Homo sapiens: one gene and its partners. The protein of the gene in region 1 purifies or fractionates together with the protein of each later gene. This does not show direct contact. Each region holds a gene or a part of one and is shown in the gene's direction. Other genes may lie near its edges.

The links. The genes of interacting proteins can lie anywhere in the genome.
Region 2: the proteins of TPD52 (region 1) and SEC63 purify together in Homo sapiens (co-immunoprecipitation; one large-scale study listed by IntAct). This does not show direct contact.
Region 3: the proteins of TPD52 (region 1) and GPBP1 purify together in Homo sapiens (affinity purification with mass spectrometry; one large-scale study listed by BioGRID and IntAct). This does not show direct contact.
Region 4: the proteins of TPD52 (region 1) and NT5DC3 fractionate together in Homo sapiens (co-fractionation; one large-scale study listed by BioGRID). This does not show direct contact.

What each region holds. Positions count from the first base shown.
Region 1 is NC_000008.11:80,168,765-80,172,826, reverse strand, and holds the start of TPD52 (tumor protein D52), read left to right. Parts: upstream 1-1,262; 5' UTR 1,263-1,383; coding exon 1,384-1,402; intron 1,403-1,705; exon of another isoform or gene 1,706-1,806; intron 1,807-4,062. Other genes in the region: TPD52-MRPS28 protein, read left to right, coding at 1,384-1,402.
Region 2 is NC_000006.12:107,906,209-107,909,708, reverse strand, and holds part of SEC63 (translocation protein SEC63 homolog), read left to right. Parts: intron 1-673; coding exon 674-782; intron 783-2,931; coding exon 2,932-3,026; intron 3,027-3,128; coding exon 3,129-3,261; intron 3,262-3,500. UniProt on the Homo sapiens protein: Mediates cotranslational and post-translational transport of certain precursor polypeptides across endoplasmic reticulum (ER). Proposed to play an auxiliary role in recognition of precursors with short and apolar signal peptides.
Region 3 is NC_000005.10:57,177,059-57,180,558, forward strand, and holds part of GPBP1 (vasculin), read left to right. Parts: intron 1-3,500. UniProt on the Homo sapiens protein: Functions as a GC-rich promoter-specific transactivating transcription factor.
Region 4 is NC_000012.12:103,838,435-103,842,444, reverse strand, and holds the start of NT5DC3 (5'-nucleotidase domain-containing protein 3), read left to right. Parts: upstream 1-1,210; 5' UTR 1,211-1,288; coding exon 1,289-1,496; intron 1,497-4,010.

The sequences.
Region 1 (4,062 bases):
ATAGGCCATTTTAAGGACTTTACCACCTGGAGCTTGTAACCTAATAGGACTGTGAAACATACACTGGTAGCATCCTGGCACCAGTGCTGGGGTGAGTGCCACAGGAGAGGAGCCAAGTGCAGTCAGAGTAGAAGGACTCAAATAGAAGAGATCACATCTGGTTGAGTCAAACAGTAAACGTCCCCAGAAGACACTGGAAGATGCAGGCTGGAGAGAGCTACACTTTACATACAGCACGACAGTATAGAGATATTAATAGCATACAGTCACTTCAGGTAACTACAAGTAATTTTAAAACATCTGAATAAGTGCTTCTTTGTTGTCTGTGGAGTGCTACACAATGCTTCGGCCTAAACGTCAAGCAACACAGAAAAGAAGCCCCACTTCATTTGCAGCCTCAGATAGCTTACGAAATTGAGACACCACCTGAAGACCATGACCCATACAATCAAAGTGACTTCATGGAAGACGAGTAACTGCAAAACCCTGTGAAAACAGATTGTTAACGCTACTAATGAAAAGAACTGGATTGTTACGGGAACCTCAAACTGTCCTTTGATCAACGGACATGACGCCTCAACACGCATTTTCCAAAGATCTCTGCTGATAATTCTGACCTTCGGTTAATTTAATTAATTTCATTTGATTTAATTCATTTTAGTGTTGTCCTCAGTCCCGCACTCAAAACAGATTTTTATTATATGAAAATCTTCCTAGTCACCTAAAAAATCCGCATTCTATGGAAAAGACTATATAATTTTTCAAGAGATTCTTTGCAATTTTCACCTATGCTGGTTTATGACCTAGTTAGAGAAGACATCATAGGGCATTATTTAGGTAATAAAATACAGAGAGAAAAGAGCCACTGGCATTTCTAAATAACGTTCCTGTGTTTCCTACTGTAAGTATAGGAAAGTAGGTGTTCGCAGATGCAGAGAAAGGGCATCTCCAAGGCCTCGGAGGAAACTTTTGATTTTATAAATAACTTGATGGTGGAAGGCAAACGCCATCCCGGTTCCCAAGCAGGCTCCACGCAGCCTCCATGGCCGAGTCCATCTCCTCGCCGTCCTCTTCCCTCCTCCCGGCCGACTTCCAGCCGGTGCGGGAGTCGGGGTGCGCCCGGCCCTCCTAGCGCTGCGCCGCCCGCGCCGACGTGGCGGAGCGCACAGGTCGACCGGGTCAGGTGGTTGGGTGACGCCCCAGGAAAGCGCTCCAGGCCGAGGGCGGGCGGCGCCGCCGCGCCCGACGCCTCTGGGGGTGGGGACTTCGCGGGAGTCGCCGGCGGAGGCGAGGAGGAGCTCTGCGCGGCGCGGCGGGCGATCCGAGCCGGGACGGGCTGCAGGCGGGGGTGCTGCAGAGGACACGAGGCGGCGGGCTGGAGACATGGACCGCGGCGAGCAAGGTGAGGGCGCGGACCCAGCGGGCTTGGGCTCGGGCTTGGACTCGGGCTTGGACTCGGGCTTTGGCTCGGCGCGGGGCTGAGCGCGGCCCGGCGGCTCGAGCAGGTGCCGAGCCTCCTGGGCCGGCGCCGCAAGTTGCATCTCCCGGATCCGGATCTGGCATCCTGGGGCCCTGGAAGGAGCGGCTCTGGCGGGGGCAGATGGGACTGCATGTGTGAGTGTGAGTGTGCGTGTGTGGGGGAGAGGGAGAGAAGGTTCTGGGAGGTGGCGAAGGGGCTAGCGTCAGGGGCTGGCGGCCGTGATGCGCTTTGGGTGGAAAGCCGCGTGAAGGGAGCACGGCGCAGCCAGCTCCTGTAAGTGACTGGAACCAGGAACAGAGGACAGTGAGTCGCTCTCGTCCCTCCAGGTGGGAAACCCCTCTCTCCCTCATAAATTAAGACTTTCTGCCTTCTTCTAAGTTCAGGTGGTTAGGATTTTTGGTGGCGTATGACCCATGGGGGGTTTGGGAGGCAGATATTTATCATACTAGAAACCCCCAGATTGTGGAGTGGTGTCTGTGGGTTTGAGGGAAGAGAGCTTTTCGTAGGAAGGGTGAAATCCCACAACACAAAACCTTCAGTCTAATTTACCATAGCGTTGGGTGCACTTGCTTCTGAAAACAGCTCAAGTGAAATTACCCCCAAATAGAGCAATAGTAGGCCATGGTTTTCAGATTTAAATAGTTTCATCCTAGAGATCTCTGCTGATCATAAGCCTGTGACTGTACGCAGATGTGTGTGGCACGCTTTTAAAAAGATACATAAATGCTGAAAAAAGAAAACAAGGTAGGTAATCTTGGGAAGTGAGGATAGGAATCACTCCTGTTTTGAGCCCTGACACAAGTTTTCATGTATTGCTTATTTTCCTCCAGTATGTGCCGTCATGTGTGCATTTTTATGTAAATCAAACCATATTCCAAATATACTATCTTGTACTTTATTTTTTTCAGACTCTGGTGTTTTTTTTGTTTGTTTTTTTGAGTCTCCACCTGTAGCCCAGGCTGGAGTGCAGTGGCGGGATCTCAGCTCACTGCAACCTCTGCCTCCCTGGTTCAAGTGATTCTCCTGCCTCAGCCTCCCAAGTAGCTGGGATTACAGGTGTGCGCCACCACAGCCCGGCTAATTTTGTATTTTTAGTAGAGACAGAGGTTTCTCCATGTTGACCAGGCTGGTCTCCAAGTCCTGACCTCAGGTGATCCACCCGCCTCAGCCTCCCAAAGTGCTGGGATTACAGGTGTGAGCCACTGGGCCAGGCCTGTACTTTACTTTCATTTACTTGTAAGATAGACTCTTTGGAGTCTTTCAGCTCTTTCCTCGCTCCCCTTCAGATTAATTTCAGACTTAACACAAGTGCTTACAAACATTACATACAATATGCTTTATATGTGTTACCTATGTGTATATATATATTATACATTACCTGTATAACGTATATATACACATACATATTATTATCTAAATTTTAAGCTTCTTGAGGTTAGAAACATTTCATCTTTGGTTGTCCTGAGTGGGATAACATGATGACTTGTACATAGTAGACATGCAAATGTTTGAGTTAGAAAGCTTGTCACATGTCTTGTATATATTGTTAGCCGGCTTAGGGGCCACCATGTAAGTCAGCATTATGTCTGTCTGGCTTTCAATGGGGGCGACGCAGGACGGGGGAGACATGACGACAAACGTGCCCATGTGTATTTGTATACTAATCTGTTACACACTGTCGTTTGACATAATGATGTTTTTAGAATAACTATGTTTGGTACTTGTCAAAGTAAATTAAACGGCTGTGTTTTACTTACGTGAGTGGAGTAACTAGTTTTAGTAGTGTTTGTGTTCTAGCTTGGGTGGTAAGAATCAACAGTCATTGGTAGCACTGCAGTATTCCAACTTCTTGTGTAGTTTTTATAGGACTAGTTTAAGTGTCTAATTCTAAGACATATTTTTTTCAAATCTTTATCTTGTAAGATGAGTCTTTTCGTGTCTATAATTTTCCCATATGTTCTTTGGGTGAGGTGGAGGACTCTGCTCCGAATGAAAGAAGAGGCACTGCCTTGGGAGGGTCAGTTCATTTACTCCAAAGCTTTGCTGTGTTAGAACAACGTGGCCAAGGCTGGGTGCGGTGGCTCACACCTGTAATCCCAGCACTTTGGGAAGCTGAGGCAGGCAGATCACTTGAGGCCAGGAGTTTGACCCCTGTCCAACAAGGTGGAACCCTGTCTCTACTAAAAATACAAAAATTAGCTCGGCGCGGTGGCACCGGCCTGTAGTCCCAGCTATTCAGGAGGCTGAGGCAGGAGAATCACTAGAAACTGGGAGGCAGAGGTTGCAGTGAGCTTAGATCAAACCACTGCACTCCAGCCTGGGCGACAGAGCGAGACTCTATCTCAAAAAACAAACAAACACAAAACAAAACCACCTGGCCATTCCTTACTCTTGCTTCCACCTGCCTACCTGCCTTTTCATCTTTATGTTACCAGTGCACACAGTAGGTGCTTAGAAATATGTGTTGACTGCCTAAGATGAGTGAGGAAAGTGTCCAAGAGCAGGCCCCAGCCATAGTAACCTCTGTGTCCCTCCAAATCCATCTCTTGTTTCCCACTTTCTCCTGTTCTGTTTTCCCTGTC
Region 2 (3,500 bases), on another chromosome or scaffold:
TCAAGTATTTATTGAAGACATGCTGTGTGTCAAGAACCAGCTTGGTGCTTATAGCAGTGGGTAGTTTTATCCCTTTTTGGTCTTTAAGGTATTTCTATCCAAAATGGTAAATGTTTTGATTATATATATGCAGTGACTTAGGTTGGTGTTTAGGCTTCAGACAGTATAAATATTTGCTAAAGAAATCACTTGAAATATGCAAGAAAGAGGTCCTTGTTGTAAGACTCAGGTATTTTTATTGTTTTATGAATATTTAGAAGATTTGACCATAAACATATTCTGCCTCAAACTTAACATTTATCAGGGTTTTGTTTTGCTTTTTTTTTTTTTTTGAGACAGAGTCTCCCTCTGTCACCTAGGATGGAGTGCAGTAGTATGATCATGGCTACTGCAGCCCTGACCTCCTGGACTCTAGCAATCTTCCCACCTCAGCTTCCTGAGCAGCTGGGACTAGAGGCATGTGCCACCATGCCCAGCTAATGTTTGCATTTTTCTTTTTCTTTTGTAGAGACAGGGTCTCACTATGTTGCCCAGGCTGGTCTCAAACTCCTGGGCTCAAGCAGTCCTCTCACCTCAGCCTCCCAAAGTGCTGGGATTACAGGAATGAGCCATCTCGCCCAGCCTATCGTAGTTTTTATACTTTCTTTCTTGTTTAATTTTTTTTGTGTTTTAGGGCTCTTGGTGGTATCGCTCAATACGCTATAGTGGAGACCAGATTCTAATACGCACAACACAGATTTATACATACTTTGTTTATAAAACCCGAAATATGGATATGAAACGTAAGTAAACTTTAAGTAACTTTGCTATTAATCACATTGTTTTGTGACTTATGTGGGGTTGATATATATTCCTTAACTCTATACTGTTGAGATTCTATTGTACAGTTTTATAAATAGTTAATTTATATAATTAAAGCTAGAGAAAAATGCCAGCACCCTTTGTCACATTTCTTAATTTATATTTTCATTATTCACATTTACTCATATATTTCATCAGAAATTTTACCATAATCCTTATGCGTGCAAATTTTGTAATTCTAGCTAACATTTATTATTTGTTGTATGCCAGACACTGCTAGTTACTGTATGTGTCTTGACTCATTTAATTTTTGCTGTGTTCTCGTAAGTGAGTGCTGTTTTACAGTACATCTTATAGATGAGGAAACTGAGGCACCGAAAAGTAACACTCTCAAGGATACACAGTAAGTGATATCCAGGATTGAACCCAGGCAGTCTGGTTCTTGAGCCTTAAACCATTATGTTATAGTGTATTAATTGTAGTAAAAATAAAAAGTCTTAGGTGTGTTGAAAGAAAACTAGTGCTAGAGTATTTCATTCCCAGTTCTTATTTAAAAATTTAAGAAAAAAAATACTATTTTCACTTTCTTTGATTATATAAAGCAAACTTTGCAGTTTATCCTTGGGAGATAGAGTGTTACCTTTCAGAATGATGGCTCTGCAAAAATCATAGCTGCTCCTCCATCCCTCTTTAAAAAAAAATAAAATAAAAGAATGTAAGTTTTGAATTGTGTCTCCGGGACCAAAATGGACTTTTCTGCATTTTGGATTTGGCAATTTTACTAATTTTCTTAGTAATGAGAGAGACTTCTCATGGTCATATATGACTGTGTGTGAACAGATTTTACATTTCTGAATGAGTTAATACTACTTTGCCTTATCGAAAATATTACTCTTCCTAAAGCTGGATTGAAATGTTAATACAGAAACTTACTCCCTTATGAAAATGTTTCATGTTTATAATTTTAAGTGTGCTTTTTGCCTCAATCATTTTGATTTCTGTTTCTTTTCTGAGGGTGGTATCCTTACACAGCTTTGTCAGAGAAGCATTGTTTAGCTGGTGGATTTCTTTACACATTCTAGGTTATTTTAGCTGTTTTAGGAACAGTTGTTATTAAGTAAACATTTGAGGGTAGTAATAGTAATAGCTCACACAAGTACTGTGCTTGCTGTGTGTCAGGCACATATGAAGAAGCTGAGATACACAGATATGAAGAATATTGTCCTAGGTCATTTAGCTAGGAAGTGACAAAATACCAAGGTCTGTGCACTTAACTTCTATACTATCCTGCCTTTTGTGAGTACATTACATGGATTTTTTTTTCTCTGAGGCAAAGTTTCTCTCATCTCCCAGGCTAGAGTACAATGGCACAATCTCAGCTCACCACAACGTCTGCCTCCTGGGTGCAAGCAATTCTCCTGCCTCAGCCTCCCGAGTAGCTGGGATTACAGGCGTGCACCACTATGCCTGGCTAATTTTTGTATTTTTAGTAGAGATGGGGTTTCACCATTTTGGCCAGCTTGGTCTCAAACTGGCTGGTCTCAAATTCCTGATCTTGTGATTTGCCTGCCTTAGCCTCCCAAAGTGCTGGGATTACAGGCGTGAGCCACCACTGGCCTGAGGGTTTTAATCATGTGTATTTCCACAAAATCCTCTTGGGTTCCATAATAAAATTTTTTTGGAAAATTATAATGCATATTAGGTTTACAAAAGGCCTTGAGAAGTCATGTAGTAAAGAAACCTTTAACTCTTGTTTACATTATTTTCAGCTTTATTTAATCATAGGGCCCCCTTTTTTCACGTGAATTATTAATACCACACAGAATACTGATGTTCTATAGAAAGTTTCTGTGGAACTTTCAGTGATTTTAATGCCTCCAGTTGCTTTGGTGTGCTTTATTTGATCTATACTTCTGTTCACTTGTGGTGGTTGATACTGTGTACATTTTAAAAAGCGAGATGTTACTTTTTTTATGGAAGAAATAAATACTTGTCAGTGGAGTTCAGATAATTTTTAGCATTGTGCATGTTTAGAAAAGTGCTTCACTTTCAAGTGAATTAAGTATCTCAGGAGGGGGAATTAATGAATGAGCATATTTATTTACCTTCATATTTCTTTTGTTTTGTTAGGTCTTATCATGGTTTTGGCTGGAGCTTCTGAATTTGATCCTCAGTATAATAAAGATGCCACAAGCAGACCAACGGATAATATTCTAATACCACAGGTTAGGCTAATTTCCCAAATCCCCCGATGAGCAGTTAAGTATTAAAGTGAATACTTTTTTTAAAAAAAGCGTGTTTTTGAATAATTATTTTATTTATTCTAGCTAATCAGAGAAATTGGCAGCATTAATTTAAAGAAGAATGAGCCTCCACTTACCTGCCCATATAGCCTGAAGGCCAGAGTTCTTTTACTGTCTCATCTTGCTAGAATGAAAATTCCTGAGACCCTTGAAGAAGGTATTTGTGATTCCGGTATCTACAGAGGTTTAGTGGGATGAAAGCAGCAGAATTAATTAGACTTAATGGTGTGTATTAGTTTGTTCTCGCATTGCTCTAAAGAAATACCTGAGGCTGGGTAATATATAAACAAAAGAGGTTTAATTGGCTCATTGTTCTGATGGCTGTACAGGAAGCATGGCTGGGGAGGCCTCAGGAAACTTTTATTCATGGCAGAAGGCAAAGCCAGAGCAGGCAAA
Region 3 (3,500 bases), on another chromosome or scaffold:
TCAGAGGAACTGAGCAAGCTGAATTAAGAACCTTTAAAATAACTTAAGAAAATATGAGTATACATTTTTTTTTCCACTCAAGAGGTTATGCTGGCCTAAGTTTGTAAGCAAAGCTTTTTTTTAAAAAAAGTTGTGAATTAATTGCTATAATAGAAATTGTTTTGACAGGTGAGAGAGTTATCGTTTAATGTTTGTATTTTTCAGGATTAAACGGTGTTTTTAGTTACCGTTAGTTACTACATTTAATTTTTCGGTGAATCATAGGCATTTAATGTTTTTTAAAGAGATACACTAAAATTTAATTTTTTTTTCTCTTTGACTAATGACAAAATTTAATTTTTAGGCAGTTAATATTAGTGAACACGAGTATAACTAAAATTAGAGGGTATTTCAATTAATTGTCTTTCTGAGACGAAAGACTAATTTTTATTTGAGACCGAGTTTCGCTCTTGTTGCCCAGGATGGAGTACAATGGCATGATTTTGGCTCACTGCAGCCTCCGCCTCCCGGGTTCAAGCGATTCTCCTGCTTCAGCCTCCCAAGTAGCTGGGATTACAGGTGCCCGCCACCACGCTCGGCCAATTTTTGCCTTTTTTTTTTTTTTTTTTTTTTTTTTTTTTAGTAGAGACCTGGGTTTTCACCTTGTTGGTCAGGCTAGCCTCGAACTCTTGACCTCAGGTGATCCTTGCGCCTTGGCTTCCCAAAGTGCTGGGATTATAGGCCTGAGCCCACGCGCCCGGCTGAGATTGCAATTTTTGAACTCTTTACCAAGATGGCCTAACATCATAACTTGTCAGTTGCTTATTTTGAACCAATTTTTTTTTTGCTTAAACTGTTGAATCCTGCTAGCTCCCATAGAGTGAAAGTGGTAGTAAATGTAAAATAGAGTTTTTTTTCTCTGAAATTGATATTAGAGAGTTCAGTGTTTCCCTTTGTTATAATAGACTAGGTTATATGTGTTTTCTCTGTCAGACCTGTGTGTAGTAATTCTAATTGAGTGTCTACCTTGATTTATAAAATCGGTGAGAACATTCCACACCCTTTCACTTGGGAGAGCATGTATTTTGTTCATTCCTCAATTCAATGACTTTTCAAGTTGCTTAACAATATGCATCTTAAATAAGATTAAGTTGAACTGGAGTCAAACGATCATTCTTCTAGAAAACTACATAATATTTATTATTTGTGATTTTTTCTTTTTTTGAGACGGACTCTTGCTCTGTCGCGTGCCCAGGCTAGAGTGCAGTGGCGCAGTCTCGGCTCACTGCAACCTCCGCCTCCTGGGTTCAAGCGATTCTGCCTCAGCCTCGCCAGTAGCTTGGATTACAGGTGCCCGCCACCACGCCCAGCTAATTTTTTGTATTTTTAGTAGGGACAGGGTTTTACCGTGTTGGTCAGGCTGGCCTTGAACTCCTGACCTCAGATGATTCACCTGCCTCCACTTCCCAAAGTGCTGGGATTACAGGCCTGAGCCACTGCGTCCAGCCTTGTTTTCTTCTAAATTGCCATTACTGATATTGTTAATCTAAGCAGTAGTGTTAGGATAAAGATTACTCCAGAGATCAGAGTTTTTAGCAATTAACTTTAATCTGTGAATAGTCTATAACATTTGTCAACTTTGCGTACAGCAGTTCTTCAAGGACAGATTTACTTGAACGTTTTGACAGATATTTTCAGTATTTTATTTTTCTGGAGATTGGAATAAATAGTTGCATCCGTTGGTAATTGGAACTATTGCTGGACGCTGCTTTTCCCCAGAAGTTAACACCACTTTTCCTTTTATCTTTTCTACTCTTTATATTTTGCTTTTTTGTCCCTTTCTAAACTGTAGGTCTAAAAATAATAATCATAGTGGCTAACATTTATAGATGATGATGGTTTTTTTGCTGTGTAATTTATGTGGCATATTTTAATTAATTCTTAATCCCGTGAGGAAAGTACTATTATAGTCACTGTGGTACTGATGAGAAAATTAGGATTTAGGGGGGCTGAGACTGGGAGAAAGTTACTTTGTTAGAATTGTAATCTTGACCAAATAAATGTTCAAGCAGTCTGACTCCAGAGCACATACTCAGCACTATGCCATACTTACACTGCCTTCTTGGGGATTTTACTTTACTAATTCATTTATTTGAACATTATCTTTGATATTTTTTTCTTTTCATGTACTGCTTCTCTTTGGTTGATGTTGATTACAGACTGCTAATGGAGTTTGGAAATAAACTAAGAGATATTACTGTTTTGCTATTTGCAGTAACTATTTGGGTGATACCTTTGGTTAGCTAAAATTGTGTGTGTGTGTGTGTTTGAGACAGGGTCTCGCTCTCTCACCCAGATTGGAGTGTAATGGCACGATTGTAGCTCAGGCAACCTCGAACTCCTGGGGTTAAGGGTTCCTCCTGCCTTGGCCTCTCAAAGTGCTGGGATTACAGGCCTAAACCACAGTGCCTGGCCTTGTATTTTTCTTTCACCCATAGCCTGTTTCCACAGGCATGGAGCTAAATGCATAGCTTTGTTTTACCTTGTCTTTTTTTTGTTGTTTTTTTGGGTTTTTTTGAGACAGAGTTTCGCAGTTGTTGCTGAGGGTGGAGTGCAATGGCGTGATCTTGGCTCACTGCAACCTCTGCCTCCCCGGTTCAAGCGATTCTCCTGCCCCTTCAGCCTCTTGAGTAGCTGGGATTACCCGCATGTGCCACCAGGCCTGGCTAATATTGTATTTTTAGAAGACGGGATTTCACCACGTTGGTCAGGCTGTTCTCAAACTCCTAACTTCAGATGTCTGTCCACCTCTGCCTCCCAATATGCTGGGATTATGGGTGAGAGCCACTGGGCCCGGCCCCTTGTCTCTGTTTTTGAATTGAAATAGTTACATGGATTTTTGTGCTTGAAGCTGCTGATATGTTAAAATTGAGGAAGGGAGGAGTAATGGGGAAAGAACAGGAAGAGTGAGCAGGAAAAAAAAAACTGGGGAGAGTTACAAGAAAGGGGTAATTGAGGAGGACTTCTAATCTGAAAGTAAAATAAGCAAGTGAGGATAGAGTTTAAAACCAGGCCAGATTATTTAACTTTTTTTTCTGAGACGGAGTTTTGCTGTCACCCAGGCTGGAAAGCAGTGGCACAATCTCTGCTCACTGTGACATCCGCATCCCGGGTTCAAGTGATTCTTATGCCTCAGCCTCCCAAGTAGCTGAGGTTACAGGTCCCCGCTGCCATGCCCAGCTAATTTTTTGTATTTTTTGTAGAGATGGGGTTTTGTCATGTTGGCCAGGCTGGTCTCGAACTCCTGACCTCAGGTCAGATGATCACCTGCCTCAGCCTCCCAAAGTGCTGGGATTATAGGCGTGAGCCACTGCACCTGGTCAGATTATTTAACTTTGTTTAACCAAACCATCTTTTCTGTTTCTTTTTTGATAAAAATGTTTATCAAATGTTTAGGTAACAACGTTTAGATCTATCAATGTTTAGGTAACGTTTAGATCCAGGTAAGGTACTGATGTAGA
Region 4 (4,010 bases), on another chromosome or scaffold:
ATGGAGTCTGCTTTTCAGGATTACTGAGAGGATTACATGAGATACTGCATACAGCAAGCCTTCAATAAATGGTAGTTTAAACCCAGATGCCACCTTTTTCCATGAAACACCTCCAGACCCCTCCATCCCACAACTGGAGCATACACTAATGCCTTGGGTTATTTGTCTTAAACTGTGTTCCACCCATTTCACACAAGCCAGTATGGTCTCCTTGGCAGAGTGCCAGCCTTGAGGGCCATTCCCCCTACTCCACCTGCTCAAAATTAAGTAACCACAGGACAGCTTGGGAAGTCCTTGCTGCCCGGCGATTTTCAGCAGGGTTCTGGCTGGGCCACATCAGTCTTTCCTGCAGAAGCTCTGTCTGACTCAGTCCACACAGAATTGCCCCCAGGCAGGGAGGTTGCGGTTCATTTGGCTTTAGTGGAACCACAGGCACAGGACGGGTGGAGCCTAGCAGGTTTGAGAGAAGACCTGTGCACCGAGCCGTTAGCGTGGGCAGGGGCAGGAGCTGGGTGACCATGTTCCAATGACCTCTGCCGCCAGGCGGAAACCTAGGCGGGGGGCGGGCATTGGCCTTCCAGGCTGTGTAATGGGAGGGCCCTTCAAACTTACTGAGGTCTTAAGGGGCTGGGATCCTCCAGCCGACATCAGCCCATGAGTGGAACCTCGGCCCAGCCACCCACTCACAGGTCCTCCTGGATAAATTTAAGCTGGGGATCGGGGACGTCTCAGAGGGGCCCCACGATCCAGGGGAGGTCCAGACTGCCATTAATTAGACTGCCAGAGGCCATTAATGCGGAGAGAGGTCACCTTCTAGGGCCGGGGCCAGAGCAGCTGGGGTGGGAGGGGCGCTGTCCTTGTGGCCAGAGCTGGGGGTCAGTCCCAGAAGGCAGGACGAAGGTGCGGCGGAGCTGGGCGGGCGGCGCTGGGGTCGTACCTCATCATTCCATCCCATGTGGCCTGCGCGCCACCACACCACACGGCCACCCCCGCGCCACCCTGAAATTGACCGCAGCAGGCTGGGCGTGGGGCCCCCGGCCCGGCCCCGCCCCGCCCCGTCTCCGCCCCCGTCCCAGACCCGCCCACTCCCCATCGACCCCGCCCCCGTTAGACCCCGCCTCCGGCTCCGCCCACTCCCCGCCCCGCAGCGGCGGGAGGGCAGGCCTGCGCCGCCACGTGTTCCGACGCAGGAGCTGCCCTCCTGCAGGGCAGAGCGCGGGTAGATCTTGGGCCGGGCAGCAGCAGTCGCAGAGCGGCGCGGCGGCGGTGGCGGCAGCAGGCAGCAGGCATGACCATGGCAGCGGCGGCGGTGGTGGCACGCGGGGCCGGGGCGAGGGCAGCGACAGCGGCGGCTTTGCGGGGTGGCTGCGGGACCGCGGCTCGGGGGCGGCCGTGTGCGGGCCCCGCCCGGCCCTTGTGCACTGCACCCGGGACCGCCCCGGACATGAAGCGCTACCTGTGGGAGCGCTACCGGGAGGCGAAGAGAAGCACAGAAGGTGAGTGAGGCGGCGACCCCGCCCCGGCGCCTGGGGCCCCTCCTGCGCGCTCAGCTGGGAAGCGGGCGCCCTAGGACCCGGACCAGCCCAGCTGCGGACCTCCAGGGCCTCCAGTCGCGAACCCCGGTGCCCACACCCCCAGCCGCAGGCAGCATCGCTCCTGCGGAGCGACTCGGGGAAACGGGGAAAAATGCGCTCTAGAAACTTCACAACTCGCGCCTTTCCCCGGTCGGGAAAGCTGTTGTATATATTCTTGGGATTTTTAGCCCGAAATCTGCATCTGAGGGGCTTTGGGCCGCGCGGGGCTGGGGTTCCTCAGGCCTCCCTTGGGAGCCGGCCACTCCCACGCACCGTTAGGTGTTGTTACTCATCAATAGTAATAATAGTAACAGCCGAGTCGGGCTGGCGCAGAGATGCCCAAGAGCGGGGCTGCTGGGGAGGTGGCCGATCCCGAGGCTGGTCTGTTTTCCTTTTGGTGGGGGTGGGTTGGGATGGGATGGGATGGGATGGGATGGAATGGGATGGAATGAGATGAGATGAGATGAGATGAGATGAGATGAGATGAGATGAGCTGTGCGGTGTTTGAAAGAGGAGAGGTCCAGGTGGGGAAGGTTCTGGGTTATCCATTAACCTCGGTGAGGAGGGGATTCTAAGGCTGTGAATGGGAACTTCATGGCCAGGTGCACATAAAATGAGCTTGGCTCGGTTGTTACTACTAATGAACTAATAAATACCAGTGCCGGGCACGTAGATTATCTCTAAATCGTTCCTGTAATCTACGAAGGAGGTTCCACATCCCCATTCTATAGATGGGAAAGGCGAGACTCAGGTTTAAATGACCTGGCCAAGGTGACGCCTGAATTTAGGGACTGTCTCAGCTCCTAACCCACTGTCCTGTTTCCTGTGCTCCGTTGACCATTTGGGAACCAATAATCCATTGTCGCTGTTGCTTCCAAGGAGGATTCAGAACCGAAATTTGTATATTGGTTACTTCTTGTTGTGGAGGTGGCACATAGATAGGGAGAGATTATTTGGTGAGCAAGAACGTTTTATAGGATCACATTTTCCATTTTTTTTGGCCAGAAGTCAGTTTAATGAAAAAAGCAAATTGGAGTGATTTTCAGAGGGGACGTAAAATGACTAGCAATGCAGAATTCTATGAAATGGTGGCTTACTTTCTTAGTTTCCCTTTGCCAAGAGTTAATTTTGCTTTGGCTTTTGAAGCTGTTGTGTGGTATGGTGGAAAGAAGACTGGCTTTGGAGACATTGGGAATTTTGCAGGTCTTAAGAGATGAAAGGAATATAGAAGATTATCAAACCCAGCTTTTGGGCAGGAAAGTTTTTTTTTTAACTTGTAATTCTTATTGAGATAATTGTATATTTACATGCAGTTTAAGAATTAATAGAGGGGCCAGGTGTGAGCTCACGCCTGTAATCCCAGCACTTTGGGAGGTTGAAGCAGGCAGATCTCTTGAGCCCAGGACCAGCCTGGGCAACAAAGGAAAACCCAATCTCTACAAAAAAATGCAAAATTTAGGCAGGCGTCGTGGCTCACACCTGTGGTCCCAGCTACTTGGGAGGCTTGAGTTGGGGAGGATCGCTTGAGCCTGGAAGGTTGAGACTGCAGTGAGTTGAGATTGCAACACTGTACTCCGGCCTGGTTGGCAGAGCCAGACCCTGTGTAAAAAATAAACAGAAAAGGACTAATAGAGGGAGATCTGGCATACACTTTATCCAATTTCTCCCAGTGGTAACATTTTGCAGAACAGTAGTACATTATCACAACAGTATATATTGATACAGGCCACAGATCAGAGTGTCATTTTATTTGTACTTGTGTGTGCACATGCATGAGAGCACAGATGTATTTCTGTACAGTTTTCTCACATGTAGGTTCATGTATCCACCACCACAGTCAAGGGACTGAACAGTTCCTCATAAAGATCCCTCATTCGGTCTTTATAGCCCCACCCATCTCCCCCATCATGTTCTCCCTTGTCCCCAATCCCTGGAGCACTATTTGTTCTCCATTTCTAAAATTTTGTCATTTCAAAAATGTTAGGCTGATGGAGTCATACAGTATGTAACCTTTTGGAGTTGTTTTTTTTCACCAAGTATAATTTCCTGGAGTTTTATCCAGTGTTATGTGTATTGTATCAATAGTGCATTCCTTTTTGCTGTTATTTCATGGTATGTACATAAAACAGTTTAATTGTTTGTTTAACCACAGATTAACTCTATTGAACCATTTACCCATAGTTCAAAGGACATTTGGGTTGCTCCCAGTCTTTGGCTGTTACAAATAAAGATGTTGTAGACATTTGTGTACAGGTTTTTGTGTGAACATACATTTTCATTTCTCTAAATGCCAAAGAGTACAATTGCTGGGTCAAATGGCAATTGCATGTTTAGTTTTATAAGAAACTGCAGGCAAAATTTTTGCCATCCTGATTTATGGATAAGGTTTGTTGCTTGCTGCCTGTGAGAACTGGGAGGTCAAAATAGGCTTGAGTT